6 separate regions of the Homo sapiens genome follow, and all the other regions are linked to region 2. Evidence: fine-mapped expression QTL. A gene starts in region 2. Each other region holds a variant in brackets. All regions are shown on one strand. Distances are between the middles of the regions.

What was found. PIP is the estimated chance that this variant, and not a neighbour inherited with it, causes the effect. A credible set is the group of variants that fine-mapping cannot tell apart.
Region 1: its variant is the best candidate, but not a certain one, in a credible set for the expression of UGGT2 in atrial appendage (GTEx, PIP 0.75).
Region 3: its variant is the best candidate, but not a certain one, in a credible set for the expression of UGGT2 in monocytes (Schmiedel 2018, PIP 0.89).
Region 4: its variant is the best candidate, but not a certain one, in a credible set for the expression of UGGT2 in monocytes after Pam3CSK4 (Quach 2016, PIP 0.52).
Region 5: its variant is the best candidate, but not a certain one, in a credible set for the expression of UGGT2 in tibial nerve (GTEx, PIP 0.62).
Region 6: its variant is the best candidate, but not a certain one, in a credible set for the expression of UGGT2 in transverse colon (GTEx, PIP 0.53).

Annotation. Positions count from the first base shown.
Region 1 is chr13:95,927,419-95,931,509 of GRCh38, reverse strand. All of the region lies in intron 17 of UGGT2 (UDP-glucose glycoprotein glucosyltransferase 2), which reads left to right. Among named protein-coding and RNA genes, the nearest start is that of UGGT2, 120 kb to the left of the region's middle. The variant T/C (reference allele first, on the strand shown) is at 1,998.
Region 2 is chr13:96,051,347-96,055,437 of GRCh38, reverse strand. UGGT2 (UDP-glucose glycoprotein glucosyltransferase 2) reads left to right here and starts at 2,037. Exons shown (of 39, transcript NM_020121.4): 1 at 2,037-2,283. The coding sequence starts at 2,126. RefSeq lists an enhancer at 1,776-2,275.
Region 3 is chr13:95,970,311-95,974,401 of GRCh38, reverse strand. UGGT2 (UDP-glucose glycoprotein glucosyltransferase 2) reads left to right here. Exons shown (of 39, transcript NM_020121.4): 11 at 1,731-1,822. Among named protein-coding and RNA genes, the nearest start is that of UGGT2, 81 kb to the left of the region's middle. The variant AT/T (reference allele first, on the strand shown) is at 2,265.
Region 4 is chr13:95,908,722-95,912,812 of GRCh38, reverse strand. All of the region lies in intron 20 of UGGT2 (UDP-glucose glycoprotein glucosyltransferase 2), which reads left to right. Among named protein-coding and RNA genes, the nearest start is that of UGGT2, 140 kb to the left of the region's middle. The variant C/T (reference allele first, on the strand shown) is at 2,013.
Region 5 is chr13:95,884,309-95,888,399 of GRCh38, reverse strand. It overlaps UGGT2 (UDP-glucose glycoprotein glucosyltransferase 2), which reads left to right. Exons shown (of 39, transcript NM_020121.4): 26 at 429-508; 27 at 3,720-3,909. Among named protein-coding and RNA genes, the nearest start is that of UGGT2, 170 kb to the left of the region's middle. The variant A/G (reference allele first, on the strand shown) is at 2,230.
Region 6 is chr13:96,081,665-96,085,755 of GRCh38, reverse strand. No RefSeq gene overlaps it. Among named protein-coding and RNA genes, the nearest start is that of HS6ST3, 6.4 kb to the left of the region's middle. The variant C/T (reference allele first, on the strand shown) is at 1,940.

The DNA of each region.
Region 1 (4,091 bases), 120 kb after region 2:
AGCCTCCCCGACGAGTGCTGCCCCCTGCTCCGCGGCGCCCAGTCCCATTGACCGCTCAAGGGCTGAGGAGTGCCGGTGCAAGGTGCGGGAGTGGCGGGCAGCTCCCCCTGCGGCCCAGGTGTGGGATCCACTAGGTGAAGCCCCTGGGCTCCAGAGTCTAGTGGGGACTTGGAGAACCTTTATGTGTAGCTGAGGGATTGTGAATACACCAATCAGCACTCTGTGTCTAGCTCAAGATTTGTAAACACACCAATCAGTACCCTGTGTCTAGCTGGAGGTTTGTAAATGCACCAATCAGTGCTGTGTCTAGCTCATCTAGTGGGGACTTGGAGAACTTTTGTGGCTAGCTCAGGGATTGTAAACACACCAATCAGCACCCTGTCAAAACGGACCAATCAGCTCTCTGTAAAACAGACCAATCAGCTCTCTGTAGAATGGACCAATCAGCAAGATGTGGGTGGGGCCAGATAAGGGAATAAAAGCAGGCTGCCCAAGCCAGCCGTGGCAACCCGCTTGGGTCCCTTTCCATGCTGTGGGAGGTTTGTTCTTTTGCTCTTTGCAGTAAATCTTTCTGCTGCTCAGTCTTTGGGTCCGTGCTGCCTTTGAGAGCTGTAACACTCACCATAAAAGTCTGCACCTTCACTCCTGAAGCCAGCGAGACCACCAACCCACCAGAAGGAGAAAACCCCGAACACATCTGAACATCAGAAGGAACAAACTCTGGACACTCCATCTTTAAGAACTGTAACACTCACCGCGAGGGTCCACAGCTTTATTCTTGAAGTCAGTGTGATCAAGAACCCACCAATTCCGGACACAGTATTACCCAACTTCACAGTACACTATGAGGCTACAGTAACCAGAGCAGCATGGTACTGGTACAAAAATAGACACATAGACTAATGGAACAGAGTAGAGAACCCAGAAATAAAGCCACACACCTACAAACATTTTAGCTTTGAAAAGTTGATGAAAATTAGTGGGAAAAGGGTCCTCGATTCAATAAATGGTCCTAGGATAGTTGGCTAGCCATATGCAAACAAAACTGGACCCCTACTTTTCACCACGTTCAAAACTTAACAAGATGGATTAAACAGTTAAGTATAAGACTTAAAACTATAAGAATTCTAGAAGAAAACCTAGGAAACACCGTTCTGGACATCAGTCTTGGGAAAGAATTTATGGCTAAGATCTCAAAAGCAATTGCATCAAAAACAAAAATTTGACGAGTGGGACCTAATTAATTAAAGAGTACAACAAAAGAAACTCGCAACAGAGTAAACAGACAGCCTACAGAATATACAGAAAATATTCACAAACTGTATATCCGACAAAATTCTAATATCCATAAGTAGCAAATAAATCAAGCAAAGAATAAATAACCCCATTAAAAAGTAGGCAAATGACATTAACAGGTACTTCTCAAAAGAAGACACGCAGGCGGCCAACAAGCATATAAAGAAATGTTCAACACTACTAATCCTTAGAGAAGTGCAAATCAAAACCAAAAGGAGACACCATCTCGTACCATTTAGAATGGCTGTTATTAAGTGAACAAACAACAGATGCTGGTGAGGCTGAGGAGGAAGGGGAACGCATATACACTGTTAGTGGGGATGTAAATTAGTTCAGCCCCTTTGGAAAGCAGTTTGTAGATGTTTCAAAGAACTTAAAACAGAACTACCATTCAACCCAGCAATCCCATTACTGGGTACATCTCCAGAGGAAAATAAATCGTTCTACCAAAAAGACACATGTATGTTCACTGCAGCACTATTCATAATAGCAAAGATGTAGAATCAGCCTAGGTGTCCATCAGTGGTGGATTGGTTAAAGAAAATGTGGTGCATATATACACCATGGAATACTACGCACCCATTAAAAATGAAATCGTCCCCTTTGGAGCAACATGGACTCAGCTGGAGGCCAAGCAAACTAACACAGAAACAGGAAACCAAACACTGCATGTTCTCTCTTATGAGTGGGAGCTAAACATT[T/C]GGTACTCATAGACATAAAGATGGCAGCAAGAGACACTGGGGATTTCTAGAGGGGAGAGGGAAGGAAAAAGTCAGGGAAGGGTTGGAAAACTATCTGGTACTATGCTAACTACCTGGGTAATGGGATCAGTCATAACCCCAACTTCAGCATTACATGATACACCTGTGTTGTAACCAATCTGCATGTGTACCCTCGAATCTAAAATAAAAGCTGAAATTCTTTAAAAATATATTTAATTAAATTTATCTTAGGCATAATTGCATCTAAAATTGCTTAATTGGAAAAAGTTGTAATTTTTACAAGGAAATGTATTCTCCCTCCCCCTCTCCCTCATCTCCCTCTGATGCCAAGCCGAGGCTGGACTGTACTGCCTCCATCTTGGCTCACTGCAACCTCCCTGCCTGATTCTCCTGCCTCAGCCTGCCTAGTGCCTGGGATTGCAGGCGCGCGCCGCCACGCCTGACTGGTTTTCGTATTTTTTGGTGGAGACGGGGTTTCGCTGTGTTGGCCGGGCTGGTCTCCAGCTCCTGACCTCGAGTGATCTGCCAGCCCCGGCCTCCCGAGGTGCCGGGATTGCAGATGGAGTCTCGCTCACTTAGTGCTCAATGTTGCCCAGGCTGGAGTGCAGTGGCATGATCTCGGCTCACTACAACCTCCACCTCCCAGCCGCCTGCCTTGCCCTCCCAAAGTGCCGAGATTGCAGCCTCTGCCCGGCCGCCACCCCGTCTAGGAAGTGAGGAGCATCTCTGCCTGGCCGCACATCATCTGGGATGTGAGGAGCCCCTCTGCCCAGCCGCCCAGTCTGGGAAGTGAGGAACACCTCTTCCCGGCCGTCATCCCGTCTAGGAAGTGAGGAGCGTCTCTGCCCGGCTACCCACCTTCTGGGATGTGGGGAGCGCCTTTGCCCCGCCGCCCCGTCTGGGCTGTGAAGAGCACCTCTGCCCCGCCGCGACCCCGTCTGGGAACTGAGGAGTGTCTCTGCCCCGCCACCACCCCGTCTGAGAGGTGAGGAGCGTCTCTGACCGGCTGCCCCGTCTGAGAAGTGAGGAGCCCCTCCGCCCAGCAGCCGCCCCATCTGGGAAGTGAGGAGCCCCTCCGCCCGGCAGCCGCCCCGTCCGGGAAGTGAGGAGCGTCTCCGCCCGGCAGCCGTCCTGTCCGGGAGGTGGGGGGCAGCCCTCGCCAGGCCAGCCGTCCCGTCGGGGAGGTGGGGGGCAGCCCCTGCCCGGCCAGCCGCCCCGTCCAGGAGGTAGGGGGCAGCCCCTGCCCGGCCAGCTGCCCCGTCCGGGAGGTGGGGGGCGCCTCTGCCCGGCCGCCACCCCGTCTGGGAGGTGTACCCAACAGCTCATTGAGAACGGGCCATGATGACGATGGCGGTTTTGTCGAATAGAAAAGGGGGAAATGTGGGGAAAAGAAAGAGAGATCAGATTGTTACTGTGTCTGTGTAGAAAGAAGTGGGCATAGGAGACTCCATTTTGTTCTGTACTAAGAAAAATTCTTCTGCCTTGGGATGCTGTTAATCTATAACCTTACCCCCAACCCCGTGCTCTCTGAAACATGTGCTGTGTCCACTAAGGGTTAAATGGATTAAGGGCGGTGCAAGATGTGCTTTGTTAAACAGACCCTGCAAGGCAGCATGTTCGTTAAGAGTCATCACCACTCCCGAATCTCAAGTACCCAGGGACACAAACACTGCGGAAGGCGGCAGGGCCCTCTGCCTAGGAAAACCAGAGACCTTTGTTCACAAGTTTATCTGCTGACCTTCCCTCCACTATTGTCCTGTGACCCCGCCAAATCCCCCTCTCCGAGAAACACCCAAGAATGATCAATAAATACTAAAAAAATTTAAAAAAACAACAAAAAAGCAAACAAACAAACAAACAAAAAAATTCAGTGAGTTAATTAATGAGAATTGTCCTGCTCACAATAGGTGCTCAAGAAATGGTTACTACCATGATTCTGGTTGTGAAGTGAAATTGCCAACACCTGAGACAGAGCTCATTAAATGTTTACCAAACTGAAGAATAAAAAAAAAAAAAAAAAAGAAAGAAAATGTATTGTAATAATTCTAAATTGCTTATTTATTTTTGATTAAG
Region 2 (4,091 bases):
AATGGGGAGTTAATTAAAGCAAATAATTGTGAAAGATTCGTAATGTATTTTTCTCGTATACACTATGGATAGAAATGAAGTGCATTTGCCTTAGCTTTCTACATTCTTTCCATAAAGCAAGGGTTCTTCAATCTTCATGGAGTCCCCAAATAACATGTGAATGTGAAGTATTGTGCTAGGTACTGCACGGGATGCCAAAGATGAACAAGGCATGAGTTCTGGGGGAATATACTATCTCTCACAGGAGAAATAAGTAAGTAGCGTACTCAAGTATTAAAGTGAGAACTTAAGTGCTATATGGCAGTTACAATAAAGAGGAAATTTAAAGTAAGGATAGATCATACCAAGTAGGATAAATCAGGAAATGAAGGCTAAACTTTGGAAGTGAGAAATTATTCTGGAAATTCGTGGAACTGCTTAGCGGAATAGGGTTTTCTAAGGAAGGGTACTGACTAAGCAAATGAAACGAAAAAAGGGAATGACTATGTTTCCGCAACTTCAAGAGATCCAGCTTCCCTGCAGGGCAAAGGAGTAACAGGAGAGAAAAAAAGCAATGAATCCGTGCATCCGCTAAACTCTTTTACCATATATTTTACTCTGACAAAACAACTATCACGTATTGGCCTTTTGTTTGTTTGTTTTTTTGAGACACGGTCTCCCTCTTTCGCCCAGGTTGGAGGGCAGTGGCGCAATCACCGTTTTCTGCAGCCTCTACCTCCTCGGCTTAAGCTACCTTCCCGCCTCGACCTTCCAAAGTGCTGGGACTACAGGCGTGAGCCACCATGCTCAGGCTTATTGGCACTTTTCTGTGCACTTTTAAATGTAATCCTCTAAATCACTCTTCTCCACCTTTCCTGTGCATAGGAATCACCTGTGGTTCCCGTTAAATTGGAGATCTTGATTCATTAGGTCTGGGGCGGGGCCTGAGCTTCTGCATTTCCATTGAGCTCACAGCTGAAGCCTACCCTGGACCACACCTTCCAATGGAAAAGGCTCCAGTGTGATTTCTAGCCACTAGTATTATCTGCGAACTTGGGAGAAATAAAATGCAAGTTCTCGGCCCCCGCAAGGGCTCTACTGAATCCGAAACACTGTGGGGAGGCCCACCACTCTGCAGTGTTTTAACAAGCAAGTGGTTAAAGTTTGAGAGCCACCCGTAAGTCACGGGTTTCCTAACATGATTGGACACTGGAATCACCTGCGGATTTTTTTTTTTTTTTTTTTTTTGAGACGGAGTCTCGCTCTGTTGCCCAGGCTGGAGTGCAGTGGCGGGATCTCGGCTCACTGCAAGCTCCGCCTCCTGGGTTCACGCCATTCTCCTGCCTCAGCCTCCCAAGTAGCTGGGACTACAGGCGCCCGCCACTACGCCCGGCTAATTTTTTGTATTTTTAGTAGAGACGGGGTTTCACCGTTTTAGCCAGGATGGTCTCGATCTCCTGACCTCGTGATCCGCCCGCCTCGGCCTCCCAAAGTGCTGGGATTACAGGCGTGAGCCACCGCGCCCGGCCTGCGGATTTTAACTAATACTACTGATGCCGCATCTCACCCCCCCTCCCGAGATTCTCAGGTACGGGGCGTGGCCTTGGCGGCGGCCTTATAAAAGCTCTCCCAGGTGATTCCAACCTGTAGTAACACTTGAGAACTGCGTGAGGTGGGGACTTCAACTTTAACTGGACTTATTTTCCTCCTATGTAAAAGGTGGACAATATGCAAGTGGTCCTGACTTTGCTTCCAGATTTTGGCAACTCCAGAGCCCTAGTTCGGTCTGGAGAGCCAGCTTCCCGCCCCGTGTCCTAAGGCCTCTGTCCGAGAACCCAAAGTCCTGGGAATGGACCCGCGGGAGCGGACCCGCGGGAGCATCTGTGACGCCGCTCAGCAACCCGGCGCCGCCCCGGCGGCTCCGACGTGGCCCAGTGTCCGGCTGGCGTGGGCTCTCCAGGCCGCACCCACTAAACCGCGCCGGAGCGGGACACGCATGCGCCGGTCTGGACCCGGCACCCAGTAACGGACTCGAGCTCCTCCCACCGGAAGTGGGCAGCCGCGCAGCGGGAAGAGCCGGCCGAAGCGTGGCGGCCACAGACTGTGGGTACCGGGTCCGAGGGACTCGCGCTTTTCTCTCCGTGCCATGGCGCCAGCGAAAGCCACGAACGTGGTGCGGCTGCTACTAGGCTCCACAGCGCTGTGGCTTTCGCAGCTCGGCTCCGGGACGGTCGCCGCGTCCAAGTCGGTGACTGCCCACTTGGCCGCGAAGTGGCCCGAGACCCCGCTGCTGCTGGAGGCAAGGTGGGTGCGGGCCGGGCCCTCGTCCGGGCGGGTGTGGGCGCGCTGCCACCCTCAGCCGCGCTTTCTTCGTGCTCGCAGCGGGTGTCTGGCTCCCACCCGGGTTCTCCAGACGCCCCCGCTCTGGCCCTGAGCATCACCACCTCCTTCCTTCCCGACCCGGGGCGGCTTCTCGGTTCCCGTGCAGCACTCACTTGCAGTTCCTTTCCCCCTCAGTCTTACTTTACCTACGATTTTTAAAGCTTCCCTGCCCTGCTTTAATACGTTGGGATGTATTAGCATTTACGCGTGGCACTTAACGCAAGAGCTTCTACTGGGGTAGGCAGTTCTGTTCAGACAGTGCTTAAAGTACCTAGTTTCGTAATGATGACATCATACCATCAGCTCCTAGGCTTACTATGGGGAGGGCAGCTTCCTGCAAGGTAATATTTTTCCTGTATCTCTTCCAACGGAATTAGTTCATGACCTGTCATTTACTCTGCAGAACAAAACTTGTAGCTATTGCATTTTGCCCTTTAGTATTCTAGTTGAGTAAAATTAGAAAGTTCTTTCTCTTAGCAAAAATGAAGTTTTACACCAATGACTTAATGGCTGTTCACCACAGCAACAGTGTGTGTCCCTAAAAAGAGACTCCATGACTCCACATAAGTTCATGTATTTGATGCTAAAAGTTCTTTTTTTTTTTCATTTCTATAGTTTATTGGGGAACAGGTGGTGTTTGGTTACATGAGTAAGTTCTTTAGTGGTGATTTCTGAGATTTTGGTACACCCATCACCCCATCAGTATATACACTGCACCCAATTTGTAGTCTTTTATCCCTCACTCCCTTCTCAACCTTTCCCCCGAGTCCCCGAAGTCCATTGTGTCAATCTTATGCCTTTGCATCCTCATAGCTTAGTTCCCACATATCAGTGAGAACATACTATATTTGGTTTTCCATTTCTGACTTACTTCACTTAGAATAATAGTCTCTAATCTCATCCAGGTTGCTGTGAATGCCATTAATTGATTCCTTTTTATGGCTGAGTAGTGTTCCATCATATATATGCCACAGTTTATCCACTCGTTGATTGATGGGTATTTGGATTGGTTCCACATTTTTGCACTTGTGAATTGTGCTGCTATAAACATACTTGTGCAACTATCTTTTTCATGACTTCTTTTCCTCTGGGTAGATACCTAGTAGTGGGATTGCTGGATCAAATGGTAGATCTACTCTTAGTACTTTGAGGACTCCCCACACTGTTTTCCATAGTGGTTATACTAGTTTACATTCCCACCAGCAGTGTAGAAGTGTTCCCTGTTCGCTGCATCCACGCCAACATCTATTATTTATTTTTATTTTTTTATTATGGCCATTCTTGCAGGAGTAAGGTGGTATCGCATTGTGGTTTTGATTTGTGTTTCCCTGATCATTAGTATGTTGAGCATTTTTTCATGTTAGCCATTTATATATCTTTTGAGAATTGTCTATTCATGTCCTTAGCCCACTTTTTGATGGGACTGTTTTTTTTTTCCTGCTGATTTGAGTTCCTTGTAGATTCTGGATATTAATCCTTTTTCAGATGTATAGATTGTGAAGATTTTCTCCCGTTTTGTGGGTTGTCTGTTTACTCTGCTGACTATTCCTTTTGCCGTGCAAAAGCTGTTTAGTTTAATTAAGTCCCAGCTATTTTTTTTATTATTATACTTTAAGTTCTAGGGTACATGTGCACAACGTGCAGGTACATAGATATACATGTGCCATGTTGGTGTGCTGCACCCATTAACTCATCATTTACATTAGGTGTATCTCCTAATGCTATCCCCC
Region 3 (4,091 bases), 81 kb after region 2:
AACGAATGTATGAGGTGCTGGAGAAAGCTTCAATCAGGGTGTGTGAAGTTTCGATGCCAGATTGGGGGAAAACAGCAGGAAATATAAATTCACTAGGCATCTGTAGATTTTGAAGTTGGAATATGGATTTCTTAATTAACTTTGATAGGCACATCTAAAGTAGCTAAAGACAAATAAAAATTTTACCTCTGAACCTTTTCATATCAGGGTTTAATCTTTTGCCAGTATTCTGTATAAAACAAGTAGAAATACTTTAAGTTCTTCTCCCTCCTCTGTGTGTAGCTCATCTGTTGAGTGATAATCGTACAGAAAAATTCACCATTGTCAAGCTTTCTCTGAATCTCTTCAAGTTAGTTGCTTCCTCTGCCTTTACAGAGTAGTTCACACAAGTCCCTATTATGTGACTTATCATATGATGTTGAAATACACTGGTTGTTTTTCCTCCTAAATATATTTGCCTACCCTGATAATAACAGCTTTCATTTGTGAGCACTTTATAGGTGACAAGACATAGATGTATATTACATTTAAACTATAGCAAACATGTGAGATAGATATAATTATTCCCATTTTATAGATGAGGAAACTGAGGATTATGAAAGTGATTTGAACTTGCCCAAATCTTAACAGCTAATAAGTAGAAAGATCAGGATTAAACCAAGCATGATCTTCACACTGTGATCTTGACAACCGTACTGGATACTTACACTGTGATCTTGACTACTTTGCTTTAGTGACAAGAACATCCCCCTTTTTACTTTTGTTAACTGTTCTAGCGCCTGGAGATGTTTCTAGAACATAGCAGGCACTCAGGAAATGTTTACTGAATGAAAGACAGTGAAAAATCAAATATAGCTTTAATGGAAACTTTTATGAATTTAGAGTGAGCTCCAAATATTTACACATAAATCAAAGTTTTACTTTTGGCATATCATTGCCTCAAGAAATAGGAATGTGCCAACTAGCAAATTGTATATGTACACATACACACACTATATGAAATGTAGATAAGTAATTATTGTAACATTAGAACTGTAATATCATGTATTGTAAAATCAGAATATTCAGGTATTGAATTTTATCTCTAATCTATCTTAAGATTCCCCCCATCACTGAGATCAGGGCTGGGCAAACTGCTACCTTTAGGCCAAATATGGTCTGCCACCTATTTTTATAAATAAAAGCTTAATTTTTATTTTTATTTATTATTTATTATTTTATTTATTTTTTTGAGATGGAGTTTCGTTCTTGTTGCCCAGGCTGGAGTGCAATGGTGCAATCTTGGCTCACTGCAACCTCCGCCTCCTGGATTCAAGTGATTCTCCTGCCTCAGCCTCCCAAGTAGCTGGGATTACGGGCATGTGCCACCACGCCCAGCTAATTTTTTGTGTTTAGTAGAGATGGGGTTTCACCATGTTGGTCAGGGTGGTCTTGAACTCCTGACCTCAGGTGATCCACCCACCTCGGCCTCCCAAAGTTCTGGCATTACAGGCGTAAGCCGCCACGCCTGGCCTAAAAGCTTAATTTTTACAATAAACATTGCAATGTCCATTTGTTTACATAGTATCTAAAGATACAAAGGCAGAGATCAATAATTGCAACAGAGACTGTATGGCCTGCCAAACCTAAAATATTTACTCTCTGACTCTTTATAGAAATAATATGGTGACCCCTAATATAGGTCACTATTGTTCTATCACTGGTTAACTATTGCTTTGCTCTACTTCAAGGATCTTCAAGTTAGATTTAAAATTCAGCCAGGCGATGCTCGTCTATTTATAAATGGCCTTCGTGTTGATATGGATGTTTATGACGCTTTTAGGTAAGTATTAAATTATTGCTGTAAATGAACTATGGTTTATATAAAAATAAACATTGTCTTGAATTTAGTGTAAGTCAAAATATGAAGATCACTTTAAAGATAAATACATGTTTTTGATTGTACAAAACAGCTTTCTTCTACCAAAATGGGCAAGCCCAAAGTGTCTTAGAATATCAGAACTGGGAGAAACAGTCAAGATATTTGTTTGGATGAGGGTTAGACCTATAATTACTTTGTTATTCTAAACTGTCTCTTATTGAAGAGTAGATTGATGATTTGCAGAGAAGTTATTTGGAACTGGACTGAACAACCAGATACCAGATAAGGACTGAAGTCAACATGGGGTATTTCCCCAGAAGACAGAAATTGACAAGAGGAATTTAAAATGCTTGTATTTGAATGCTGGATGCTATCTGGTTTCTTGTCAAAAAAAAAAAAAAAA[AT/T]TCTTCAAAATTTTTTTGCTCAGAATTTTGAACAGGACAGAATTAGGAAGTCCTTGCTTTATCAATGGTCACTCACCCAAAATTACAGTTGTGGGCCAAACAGAAGAGTTACTTTTATAGAGAAACATAAAACTACATTAAAATTAATATTTGAAACATTAGATGAACTTAGGATACATGATACTTTAATTCAGATGTTCAGTTTTAATTCAATTGAATATACTTTTGTTGAAGTGAAATTATTTGAATTGTTTATTTAAATTCTTACCAGTTTGGAAATACGTTGGAAAATATATTGGAAAGACTGAGAAGTAGTTTTACTGAACATTTTTTACAGTTTTATCTCAAATGGGGCTTTTCTCTTTAGTTACTTGAATTCTTGGACCTAGTATTGTAAAAATAATAAGATAGATACATATAATACACATAGAAAGAGTAGAGAAGTTTGTAAATGCTAGCCTGTAAATTTCAGGGGAACAAAAATTATATATGTGCCCAGCAGCAGTGAAAACAGGTTTAAAGGAAGTAGTGAAATGGTATGTAGATTTTAGAAAGTTTTCTAAGGTAGTGTATGAGGAAATTTTTATGGCAGGAATATTTTCACGTATAATTTAGGAAGGCTGTAGGTTATTAAAAAAATAAAACCCCCCAGCTCCTACACCTGGTCATTAGTGATTTGCAGGATGTGTGCTACATTGTTATTCCTCATTGATTTGATCACTGCTTAGTGCTACCATGATTCTCTTAAAAGAGGAAGAGACAAAATGTGAGAATATTTGTGTCTTCAGAGGATGTGGAATAAAATTAATGCAAAGAGGAAGATGAATGGAAGAAAATAAGGAAATGGAAGTAAAATGTCATATTACAGAGACATTATATATAGAGAGGTTTTATGCAGCCAATACTTTGGAATCGTCCATGTGGGGAAAGAACAGGAGTAAAGGATTTATTTTGTGCTCCCTTCCTATCTCCTTTCAGTCATTGCATTACTGGGTTGTGGAGAACCAATAACATGCCCCATACATGGCCCAGCCCTTCTTGCTCTGATCCTGAGAGTAGCGGGAGGAGCCAGAGCCTCCATGGGTTAGGATTAGATCAGCATTGGTTCTATAAAGGCCTACATCTCACCCCCAGGGAGACTGAGACAGTAAGAACATGTGACTTTGACTGGGGAGAAAGGCAAGTAGGACTGATGAAGTCCATAAGCAGGGTCTTATATATCTACATTAAAACATTCTGTTCTAGCCCATTAAAGAGTCCCTTTTATATTTTTGCCTCTGAATAGTCGCCTCAGCCACAGACTTGATGAAGAGTAGTTTAAACATTTAGATTCCCCAATTTGTTGTCAATGGGGTTATTGTTGATGTTGTTGTTTACAGTAATACTTTCTATTATGTTTAAGAACTTTCAAATTATATGTAATAAAAAATTTAAATTTGTATTCAAACACACGTGAACTTCATGATTTAATGGAGCTTCCTCTGTATTAGAATTTTATACTTTATGTCTTGTTCGATCTTACATTATTTTTGTAGTAGGTTTGTCAAAAGAGTGACCTAATATTTTTTTTCTCATTTTTGGCTTTCTCAGGGCTGATCATATCCTCACTACTTTGATAAAGAATACAATAGTCTTTGTTGTTTTATCTTTTATATAATAATAAGTTTTTACTACCACTAAAATTATGTAAGTTTACTCTGGATAACTAATTAGAACTATTTGCCTTATTTCTTAATGAGTTTAATATATTTTTCCTGCTATTAATGAAGATACCAAAAAATCTCATTTCTAATGCTTTAAGACTATCAAACTTTAAAACATTTGTT
Region 4 (4,091 bases), 140 kb after region 2:
CCTCCAGCTTTGTTCTTTTGGCTTAGGATTGTCTTGGCAATGCAGGCTGTTTTTTGGTTCCATATGAACTTTAAAGTAGTTTTTTCCAATTCTGTGAAGAAAGTCATTGGTAGCTTGATGGGGATGGCACTGAATCTATGAATTACCTTGGGCAGTGCTGCCATTTTCATGATATTGAGTCTTCCTATCCATGAGCATGGAATATTCTTCCATTTGTTTGTGTCCTCTTTTATTTCTTTGAGCAGTGGTTTGTAGTTCTCTTTGAAGAGGTCCTTCACATCCCTTGTAAGTTGGATTACTAGGTATTTTATTCTCTTTGTAGCAATTCTGAATGGGAGTTCACTCATGATTTGGCTCTCTCTTTGTCTGTTAATGGTGTATAGGAATGCTTGTGATTTTTGCACATTGATTTTGTATCCAGAGACTTTGCTGAAGTTGCTTATCAGCTAAAGGATATTTTGGGTTCAGACGATGGGGTTTTCTAAATATACAATCATGTCATCTGCAAACAGGGACAATTTGACTTTCTCATTTTCTAATTGAACACCCTTTATTTCTTTCTCTTGCCTGACTGCCCTGGCCAGAACTTCCAACACTATGTTGAATAGGAGTGGTGAGAGAGAGCATCCCTGTCTTGTGCCCGTTTTCAAAGGGAATGCTTCCAGTTTTTGCCCATTCAGTATGATATTGGCTGTGGGTTTGTCATAAATAGCTCTTATTATTTTGAGATATGTTCCATCAATACCTAGTTTATTGAGAGTTTTTAGCATGAAGGGCTGTTGAATTTTGTTAAAGGCCTTTTCTGCATCTATTGAGATAATCATGTGGTTTTTGTTGTTGATTCTGTTTATATGATGGATTACATTTATTGATTTGCATATGTTGAACCAGTCTTGCATCCCAGGGATGAAGCCCACTTGATCATGGTGGATAAGCTTTTTGATGTGCTGCTGGATTTGGTTTGCCAGTATTTTATTGAGGATTTTTGCATTGATGTTCATCAGGGATATTGGTCTAAAATTCTCTTTTTTTTGTTGTGTTTCTGCCAGGCTTTGGTGTCAGGATGATATTGGCCTCATAAGTTGAGTTAGGGAGGATTCTCTCTTTTTCTATTGATTGGAATAGTTTCAGAGGGAATGGTACCAGCTCCTCTTTGTACCTCTTGTAGAATTCGGCTGTGAATCCATCTGGTCCTGGACTTTTTTTAGTTGGTAGGCTATTAATTATTGCCTCAATTTCAGAGCCTGTTATTTGTCTATTCAGAGATTCAGCTTCTTCCTGGTTTAGTCTTGGGAGGGTGTATGTGTCCAGGAATTTATCCATTTCTTCTAGATTTTCTAGTTTATTTGCGTAGAGGTGTTTATAGTATTCTCTGATGGTAGTTTGTATTTCTGTGGGATCAGTGGTGATATCCCATTTATCATTTTTTATTGTGTCTATTTGATTCTTCTTTCTTTTCTTCTTTATTAGTCTTGCTAGCAGTCTATCAATTTTGTTCTTTTCAAAAAACCAGCTCCTGGATTCATTGATTTTTTGAAGGGTTTTTTATGTCTCTATCTCCTTCAGTTCTGCTCTGATCTTAGTTATTTCTTGCGTTCTGCTAGCTTTTGAATGTGTTTGCTCTTGCTTCTCTAGTTCTTTCAGTTGTGATGTTAGGGTGTTGATTTTAGATCTTTCCTGCTTTCTCTTATAGGCATTTAGTAGTATAAATTTCCCTCTACACACTGCTTTAAATGTGTCCCAAAGATTCTGGTACGTTGTGTCTTTGTTTTCGTTGGTTTCAAAGAACATCTTTATTTCTGCCTTCATTCGTTATTTATCCAGTAGTCATTCAGGATCAAGTTGTTCAGTTTTCATGTAGTTGAGTGGTTTTGAGTGAGTTTCTTAATCCTGAGTTCTAATTTGATTGCACTGTGATCTGAGAGACAGTTTGTTGTGATTTGTGTTCTTTTATATTTGCTGAAGAGTGGTTTACTTCCAGTTATGTAGTCGATTTTAGAATAGGTGCAATG[C/T]GGTGCTCCAAAGAATGTATATTCTGTTGATTTGGGGTGGAGAGTTCTGTAGATGTCTGTTAGGTCTGCTTGGTGCAGAGCTGAGTTCAGGTCCTGGATATCCTTGTTAACATTTGTCTTGTTGATCTGTCTAATATTGACAGTGGGGTGTTAAAGTCTCCCATTATTATTGTGTGGGAGTCTAAGTCTCTTTGTAGGTCTCTGAGGACTTGCTTTATGAATCTGGGTGCTCCTGTATTGGGTGCATATATATTTGGGATAGTTAGCTATTCTTGTTCAATTCATCCGTTTACCATTATGTACTGGCCTTTTTTGTCTCTTTTAATCTTTGTTGGTTTAAAGTCTGTTTTATCAGAGACTAGGATTGCAACCCCTGCTCTTTTTTCTTTCCATTTGCTTGGTAGATCTTCCTCCATCCCTTTATTTGAGCCTATGTGTGTCTCTGCACATGAGATGGGTCTCCTGAAGACAGCACACTGATGGGTCTTGACTCTTTATCCAATTTCCAGTCTCTGTCTTTTAATTGGGGCTTTTAGCCCATTTAAATTTCAGGTTAATATTGTTATGTGTAAATTTGATCCCGTTATTATGATGTTTGCTGGTTATTTTGCCTGTTAATTGATGCAGTTTCTTCATAGCACCAATGGTCTTTACAGTTTGGCATGTTTTTGCAGTGGCTGGTACTGGTTGTTCCTTTCCATGTTTAGTGCTTCCTTCAGGAGCTCTTGTAAGGCAGGCCTCGTGGTGACAGAATCTCTCAGCATTTGCTTGTCTGTAAAGGATTTTATTTCTCCTTCACTTATGAAGATTAGTTTGGCTGGATATTAAATTCTGGGCTGAAAATTCTTTCCTTTAAGAATGTTGAATATTGTCCCCCACTCTCTTCTGGCTTGTAGGGTTTCTGCTGAGAGGTCCGTTGTTAGTCTGATGGGCTTCCCTTTGTCGATAACTCGACCTTTCTCTCTGGTTGCCCTTAACAGTTTTTTTTTTTTTTTTTTTTTAGTGGGCAGGAATCTTTTTTATTATTATTATTATTATTATTATTATTATTATACTTCAAGTTTTAGGGTACATGTGCACATTGTGCCGGTTAGTTACATATGTATACATGTGCCATGCTGGTGCGCTGCACCCACTAACTCGTCATCTAGCATTAGGTATATCTCCCGATGCTATCCCTCCCCCCTCCCCCCACCCCACAACAGTCCCCAGTATGTGATATTCCCCTTCCTGTGTCCACGTGATCTCATTGTTCAATTCCCACCTATGAGTGAGAATATGCGGTGTTTGTTTTTTTGTTCTTGCGATAGTTTACTGAGAATGATGATTTCCAGTTTCATCCATGTCCCTACAAAGGACATGAACTCATCATTTTTTATGGCTGCATAGTATTCCATGGTGTATACGTGCCACATTTTCTTAATCCAGTCTATCATTGTTGGACATTTGGGTTGGTTCCAAGTCTTTGCTATTGTGAATAATGCCGCAATAAACATACGTGTGCGTGTGTCTTTATAGCAGCATGATTCATAGTCCTTTGGGTATATACCCAGTAATGGGATGGCTGGGTCAAATGACAAGCAATGGGGAAAGGATTCCCTATTTAATAAATGGTGCTGGGAAAACTGGCTAGCCATATGTAGAAAGCTGAAACTGGATCCCTTCCTTACACCTTATACAAAAATCAATTCAAGGTGGATTAAAGACTTAAACGTTAGACCTAAAACCATAAAAACCCTACAAGAAAACCTAGGCATTACCATTCAGGACATAGGCATGGGCAAGGACTTCATGTCTAAAACACCAAAAGCAATGGCAACAAAAGCCAAAATTGACAAATGGGATCTAATTAAACTAAAGAGCTTCTGCACAGCAAAAGAAACTACCATCAGAGTGAACAGGCAACCTACAAAATGGGAGAAAATTTTCGCAACCTACTCATCTGACAAAGGGCTAATATCCAGAATCTACAATGAACTCAAACAAATTTACAAGAAAAAAACAAACAACCCCATCAAAAAGTGGGCAAAGGACATGAACAGACACTTCTCAAAAGAAGACATTTATGCAGCCAAAAAA
Region 5 (4,091 bases), 170 kb after region 2:
AGTATTTATTCGTAGGTAGCCAAGAACTTCCAAATCCCAAAAGAATCAGGACACCACCAACGTTGTTGTAAGGTCACCACTTTGTATTTGCAGATCAAGGTTCTAGTAATTATTTTCCTTGTTCTTCAATACTAAGGAAATTTAGATACTATGAAAAAAAGTCACTTTAGGCAAAGGGCAAGCAGCATAACCCTGGGACATTGAAATCAACTGTTTGGATTAAAATCTTGCCTGTGCTGTGAGTTTCTGTGTGACCTTAATCTCTCTGTACCTAAACTGCAAAAGTACTATTTCAGCAGGGCGTTGTAAGGATCAAGTGAGATAATGAACATAAAGTTTTAATATAGTACCTGGTACATAGTAAATACATAATAAATATTAGCTATTAATATTATTTAATATCAAACATGGGAATTTCTTTCCAATAGGTACTTGGCAAGATTATCAACATGAAGATAAAGTTGTTCATGAACTGTAGGGGCAGGCTTTCAGAAGCCCCTTTAGAAAGGTAAATCTGAGTGAACAAAATTTCATTTTGAAAAATTTGTAAATGCTGAGAAGAAAAAAACAATCATTGTTACTGGACCTGGTTTTTTCTTTTCTTCACAAGATGCTTCAAAGAAATAAGTCAGAAGGTCAGACTATTTACTAACCTTAACTGACTTAAAATTGATATAAAAATTAAAATAACCTAACTCAGCAAAGTGATCTGACCTAATTACAGAATTTACATGGATTTATATTTATTCATAGGTATTTTTGGAAATGTGATTTAGGAATACCTATTTAGATATACATCAATGGGAAATAAGGTGGAATTAAACCATTTTTGGTTTAGCAGAATTACCAAAATGATCTTTATTATATCATCACATTTACTATTTGGGGGCATTAGGATAAAATTAGCTTAGAATAACCTGCCAGAGATATAAAAAAGTGTTGTTTATAATTATATACAAATATTCCTCATTAACACTCTTCTGTTGAAATAACATTCTCTCTCAAGAGGGGACAAAAATATACCCTTTCTCTTCTTTGTGGATCAGAATCACTGTCATTCATTATGAGCCATTCTTATTGATGGGAATATTCAGTTCTCCTTCATGTGTCATTGGGCAGAAAACAGGGTATGTACCATTGCACTAGTATAGCTTTTTAAGACTTTTTAATGTGCTCATCTCTGTATTATTTAATGATGTAATTCTAAACAAAAAATGTATGCATACACACACAAGACAGGTAGCATTCTGTTCATTCCTTGTTTACTTTTCAAATTGTATTTGTTACAACTGACATACTATAGATGTTGCCTTGAGCAGAACTTTTTTTTATTTTTATTTTTATTTTTTTTGGAGACAGGTTCTCACTCCCATTGTCCAGGCTGGGGCACCATCACAGTTCACTGTAGCCTCGACTTCTCAGGCTCAGGTGATTTTCCCACCTCAGCCTCCTGAGTAACTGGGACTACAGGTACGTGCCACCACGCACAGTTTTTTTGTTTTGTTTTGTTTTGTATTTTTGTAGAGACGGGGTCTTGCCATGTTCTCCAGGCTGGTTTTGAACTCCTGGCCTCAAGAGATACACCTGCCTTGCTCTCTCAAAGTGCTGGGATTATAGGCATGAGCCACTGTGCCCAGCCAGAGCAGGCATTTTAAACCTAAGTATTTTTAATAGTTGGAAAGCAATAAAATGGAAAATGTGGGAAATTTAAGTGAAAGTTTAGGACTTATTCATTGTCCCTCAAGACTCTTGTCCATATATCTCATTGAGTTTTTATGCTTCTCATTTATCTTTTGTATTTTAAATTTTATCACATGCCTTTTTACATCTGAACAAAAACTTTAAATTTTTTAGCTACTAATTGAAAGGTTTGTTAGTTCCATAAGTACAGAATTTTTATTCACAGGAGTAGGGGTCCTCTCTGTAAAACATCACATTATGTAATAAAGAATAGGATTACTGAACATATAAGCAAGCATAATCTACTGGGAGGGAAAGAATTGACTTTTCTAAATGAAATAATGTACTAGAGTATACAGTTATTTTTTTAACTAGTAGTTCAACAGAATCTTATTAACTCAGTAGCATATATCAAGCAACCTAGCATACACATTTATTCCCAGCCCTTTCCTTTTAGTAAATTTATTCTTCTCAGAGATGAGACAGGTTAAGGGCAGGAATCCCCTCAGCTTCTTACTCTTAACTGCTATACTTCCTCAGCCTTCCTGT[A/G]TTGTAGGGAAGGAATGAGGCATCTTTCTTCTTTTTTAGTTAAACATTCCCACTCTGTTTTGATCTCATGCTTTCCTGTTTGTTCTGGATCCTTGCTATATCACATATTCTCTCTTGTGGATCTTTAATCTCTATACTAGCTTTTTTCATTCAGTCCTTAAAGTTATTCAATTTTTTTAAAAGTTGCTCCCTTAACTTTCTCTCCTCTAGAGTCTTTTTTTTCCCTCTTCTTCATTCCTTCTTAACTAAATTTCTTCAAAGAATGGTCAGACTCTGTCTTCATATCTCATTCACTGTACCTTCCACTGCAGTTTCTCTTTAACTTTCTCTTTGCCACTGAAATTGTATTTACCAAATCACAAAGAAATTGCTACTCACTACATTCAGAGAATACTTTTTCTTTGATATTTCCACTGCAGCAAGAATTTGTTTTGAACATTTACTTCATGACTGTATTCTCTCCTGTTTCTCCTCTTTTTATTTTCTTTGTCTATCTGCATAACATGGCTCCCAGTGATCACCACTGCCTGGGACTCACACTCTGAAAGTTCTCCTGGAGTGAGAGCTAGACCTAGTGATTTGGCTCTCATAAAACAAAATATGGCTAAAGTGATGGAATTTCCCTTCTGCAATTAGGTTATGAAAGACTGTGACTTTTGTCTTGCTGACATTCTCTCTCTGTGGCTCTTCTGTGTGCTTCTCTTTTGAAGCATATTGGAGATGCCTTTTTGGGAAGTAACTGCAAGCAGTCTGCAGACAACTACCAGCAAGGAACTGCGGTCCTCATTCAGACAGCCCTTGGGGAACTAGAAGAACCTGGAAGTAGATCCTACCCTTGTTGAGCCTTGAGAGAACTACAGCACAGCTGACACCTTGACTGCAGTCTCAAAATAGTAAAAGCCACTAGCCTTGATAGCATAACATAATAATTCTGTGCACAATATTGAAGGATGAGGTTAAAATACAGCAAAACTGAAGTTAAGTCTAAAAGTGCTATTAAGCAGTTGCTTTCAACTTAATCCTATTTGTTTTTAGTTGAGCTTTTAAAAGTGGTACTAGAATTTCAGCTTGAATTTCATTTGTTTCCTACCATTTCTCTTCATATTATTAGTGGTGGTAAAAGTTAATAAAATAGCTGAAAAATAGACCATGGTCAGATTTGAAGGAGGATGCATACAAATCATAATACAATAACAGATCATAAACTCCTAGAACCTGCATAAGTCAGGTATATCTTAAAGGGATTCTAATCATGTTCATTAAGGAATAGTTAACAATGGTAGATAATATACATAGACTTAGATAGTAGTGTCAACAAATAATGATTGTCTATTTCTCATAAGCATTAACTTTTCTGCAGTATAATGCATCTTAGTCTTTTTGATTGTAGACTTCTGGTCAGATCATTAAGCAATTTTCAATTTTGAAAATATTTTAAAAGAAAAATCTCAGTTTTGGTCACATTATGTATTTTTATGTTTTATTAACAGCTTTTACCGTTTTGTTCTGGAACCAGAACTGATGTCAGGGGCTAATGACGTTTCTTCTCTTGGACCAGTGGCAAAATTTTTGGATATTCCTGAATCACCCCTCCTAATCCTCAACATGATTACTCCAGAAGGCTGGTTGGTTGAAACAGTGCACAGCAACTGTGACCTTGATAATATTCACTTAAAGGATGTAAGTTATTGTGTATAGTCATATAAAGAGAGAGAAACAGGATAAATTCTTATCAGCTATTACAATTGTAGCAAGTGAGCAATCATACTATGAATGTTTACCAGAATATTCTTTTTTATGATTCTAGGTCCTGATCCAATCTTTCCTTTGATTTTTAAGTTTTTCTAATTTCCAAACTCAGC
Region 6 (4,091 bases), 30 kb before region 2:
GGGGCAGGCCTTTCCACTGGAGAGTCAGAAAAGACTGTTGTTACATAGAGGCAAAGGGGCTAAGTCCTGAAGGATTAGAATGGTCTAGCCGTGCCAGACATCCTGGAGAAGAGCTTTCTAAGCAGAACAATAAGCACAAAGGTCTGGAGCAGAAAAGAATTTAGGGGGCTCCAGACAGACAAATGATAGAGAAATGAAAGAGAGGGAGGTTTGGGGTCAGAGCCATGATAGTGGGTGCAAAGTAGTCATTGAGGAAATGACAGGACTGATTGATACTAAAAGCTTACTGGGATCCATGAAGAATGGATTAGGAAAGACAAAAGAGAAAGCAGAGAAATCAGTTAGGAAGTGGCTGTTGTTCTCCAGGCAAGAGATGGTGGGGACTTGGGATAGGCTGGCAATGGTGGGGAAAATAATTTACAGACACAAGTCCACGGGCCTAGTATGGAAAGATTTCACTTCTTCATTTTCAAATAACAAAATGAGACTTTGCCTTTAAGATTCTATTGCCTGATACAGAGGGAAATGAGAAGCATTCAACTTACGTTAATTCAGTCACTTCTGAGTTAACCTCTGTATCTTTGGAATAAATAGTCAAATTCATGTTTCTCCCCTCCCCTTCTTCTTTGCTTTTTCCTGCAGTGAGCTAAGCCCTTTCGTACTGGCTAAGGGAATTGTGGTCTGCAGGGGAGTTTCCTTTTCCTGCTGCTCCCCCTCACCCCCTCCATGTGCAGTTATTCCTACCTGATCGCAGGTGCAAGCCTGGATTTCTGCTGGGTCTTCTGCTGCCTTGTTAGAATCTAAGCTGTCATGTCCACATGCTCTACATCTTCCTCCACTGAACTGCGAGCCCACTTCTGTCTGCCACCTCAGCTCTTCTGTGGCCCTTTCTCAAGGGCCTGTTAGCATGGAAACCAGTGATGTTTAACCCCATCAGATGGAGCACTCATTTTTATTAAACAAATGTTTTGAAGTAATCCCTTTAATGATCTCAAGTTAAGCATCATAGATAATAGAATCTACCTACACACAATTTCTCAGAAATTAACATAATGCTCTAATTGTAATGTAAATGAAACATGAAAAGAAAGTAATTAATAAAACACTGTGTATTGCAACGTGTAAATGCTGAGACCTGACTACTGTAGACAACATAAAGAAGTTCGCAGATGCTTATGACTTTTAACTATCTCAAGTTTGGACATAGAGAAGTAAGAGCACAAGACATTCTTTTCAAGAAGCAAATAAAAGAGCAAGGCGCCTGTAGTCCCAGCTACTCAGGAGGCTGAGGCAGGAGAATGGCGTGAACCCCCGGGGGCGGAGCCTGCAGTGAGCCGAGATCGCGCCACTGCACTCCAACCTGGGCGACAGCGAGACTCCGTCTCAAAAAAAAAAAAAAAAAAATTGCAGAGGTGTTTGTGGACACCAGAATTAAAATTAGTGATAGGCTAAGTAAGAATAATTCTGACTTAAAAATTGACATATAAGAAAAAGGAGAGAAAAACCTTGGTTGAAGCAATCACACACCCAGACAAATTATAGACTTTTAGAGTGAAGAAATTGGGGAAGTATAATGTTCCCCAATTAACTAGGCTTTTAAAAAAATGTCTGGTCAAAATACTTCTCTATAACATAAAATATCTCGGTGGAACCCCGTCTCTACTAAATATACAAAAAATTAGCCGCGCGTGGTGGCGGGCGCCTGTATTCCCAGCTACTTGGGAGGCTGAGGCAGGAGAATGGCGTGTACCCAGGGGGCGGAGCTTGCAGTGAGCCTAGATCGTGCCACTGCACTCCAGCCTGGGCAACACAGCAAGACTCCGTCTCAAAAAAATAAAAATAAAAATAAAATAAATAAAATAAAATATCTCAAAAAACATAACTTGTATCTTGAAATCCTACTATACATCAAAGGATAATCCAGTTTCTGAATGTAGGG[C/T]GATATTTGCAAGTCACGTGAATGCAAGACAATTCTATCATTGCCCCCACCAAATAAATGCCAGTAATAAATAAATCATCGTGAGGTGCTGACCAAACACCAAACTGCAGACTATAAACTCTTTCCTAGCCATTAATTCCACTCCTAACGAGTATCTAGAAATCCCCCTATCTTTCCTCTGTCAAAAAAAAAAAAGCCAGTTTAGAAGACATAAAAAGACTAGGAACACACGTTTCCTCACTGTCCTTATACTTTGGCTCTTGATAGTAAAGGCACATTTTAGAATTTTTAAATGATGCCATTTTTTTCCCTTTGAAAAGTCTGATTTTGAAACCATTTGAAATCAAGGTAACATAGTAAGTGATAGTACTCAGATTTGAACCAGGTAGTCTGATTCCAGAGGTGGAAAGAAGTGATGGCAAGATGGATGTTAGAAGTCAAATCAACAGGATTTACTGAAAGATTGAATAAGAGGAAGTGAACAATGGATGAATCAAAGATGTTTCTCGGGGTGTCTCTTGAGCTCCTGGAAGCCTGATAGTTCCATTTACTAAAAAGAAGAAAATGAGAGAGAAAAAGTTAGGAGGTGTTGAGGGTGGGGAGCAGCGAGGGCGAATTTTGAGTTCTGCTTTAGGTGAGCTAGGTTTAGACTGCTAATGAGACAGCTAAATGGAGATATCAAATAAATAGCTGGATATAGGATCTAGAGTTCATGCAGTAATTCTAGACAGGAGATTAAAATGTGGTGGTTTTAATAACATAGGTAACATAATAGCAGTGAGTGCTCAATAAATATTTGTTGACAGAATCTGTAAAAGACTAAATAAGCAATTACCATGGTCCAAGAGAGAAATGAGACCTCAAACAAAAGGAATAGCAATGGAACAGAAGTGTACACATTTGAGAAATATTCCAAAGGTAGAAACAATAGGATTCAGTGACTAAGTAGGAAGGGGTGAGAGAGGAAGAAATTGAGGATGACTCAAAGTGTGCTAGCTTGGAAAGCTAAGTGAATGGTAAGGTCATTAATATGGGAGGCAAAACAGATGACTGGGCATGAAAATCAGTGTAGATGACTATTCTTTCTCTTAGCAAACTAGAATGTTTGTGTTTTTCAAATGGCTTTGAGCTTCAAAATGTTTACTTACATTTTAAGAAAGCAAGCTTTAAAAATACACTTTAATTTGTCTGCAGCAAGACAGATAACTTTAGTTTAATTATTACCTTTGGAAAAAAAATCCTAGGTGGAAACACATTTGGTAAAAACTGTTTTCTCTTTCCTAATGTTTTATATCACAAATCAGGATGTAATCCTCCTCTTTTCTACATTGGCCATGAATTTTATTTTTTTCTCTCTCTCTTCATATATGTGGATACATTTTTTAAATCATAAGAAATCAAATGTCTAAAGCAGGCTCTAAGAGATATTTTAGGTAATTGTTCTTTGCTTCATTAGGATGGCCTTTTTCAACAGCACAGAAAGATGATCCAGAAGCTTCTAAGAGCAGCTTTTGAATAGGACTCTTAGTTTTTTAGGTACTTACCACAGTGCTTTGCACTCAGTAGGCATCTGAATAAATGTTCTTTGAACATGTTAAGAAGTAAATATGTTCTCCCTTTAAATTGCCAAAAGAGTTTTCACAAAATCCCTTGCTAACATATCCCTAGCTTCAAAACCCTGACACTTCTTGTTTACGTTTTATCTAAGGTGAAGTGAGCTTTGACTCCTTTGGCAAATCGTTCAGTGTGTTCCTACTACTGATAACAACCTTTTTAGTATGACCTTTTGCTATCATTTAAACCAATGTTCCTAGTGAAATGTCTGTTGAATTATACCACATAAAAGCAAAACTCTATTACATATATTTTATATATATATATATGAATATACATATTCATTTATCAAAAAGACTGGTCACCTTGCCATGGAAGCATATTAGCTACCCAACAAAATTATTTTTGCTACCTTATAAAGGTTATTAAATAGAACCTTTTTATCTTCCAAACCTGTATGATTACTTCTCTTTTTTTCCTCTAAGGGATCAGGCAGTATAAACACTTATTGTCCTGAGAGCATTTTCGTAAAGCTTTGAGTTCTGCTTATGATTGTTCTAGTTTTCTATTTTATCAAGAAGCATATTCTGAATATTTT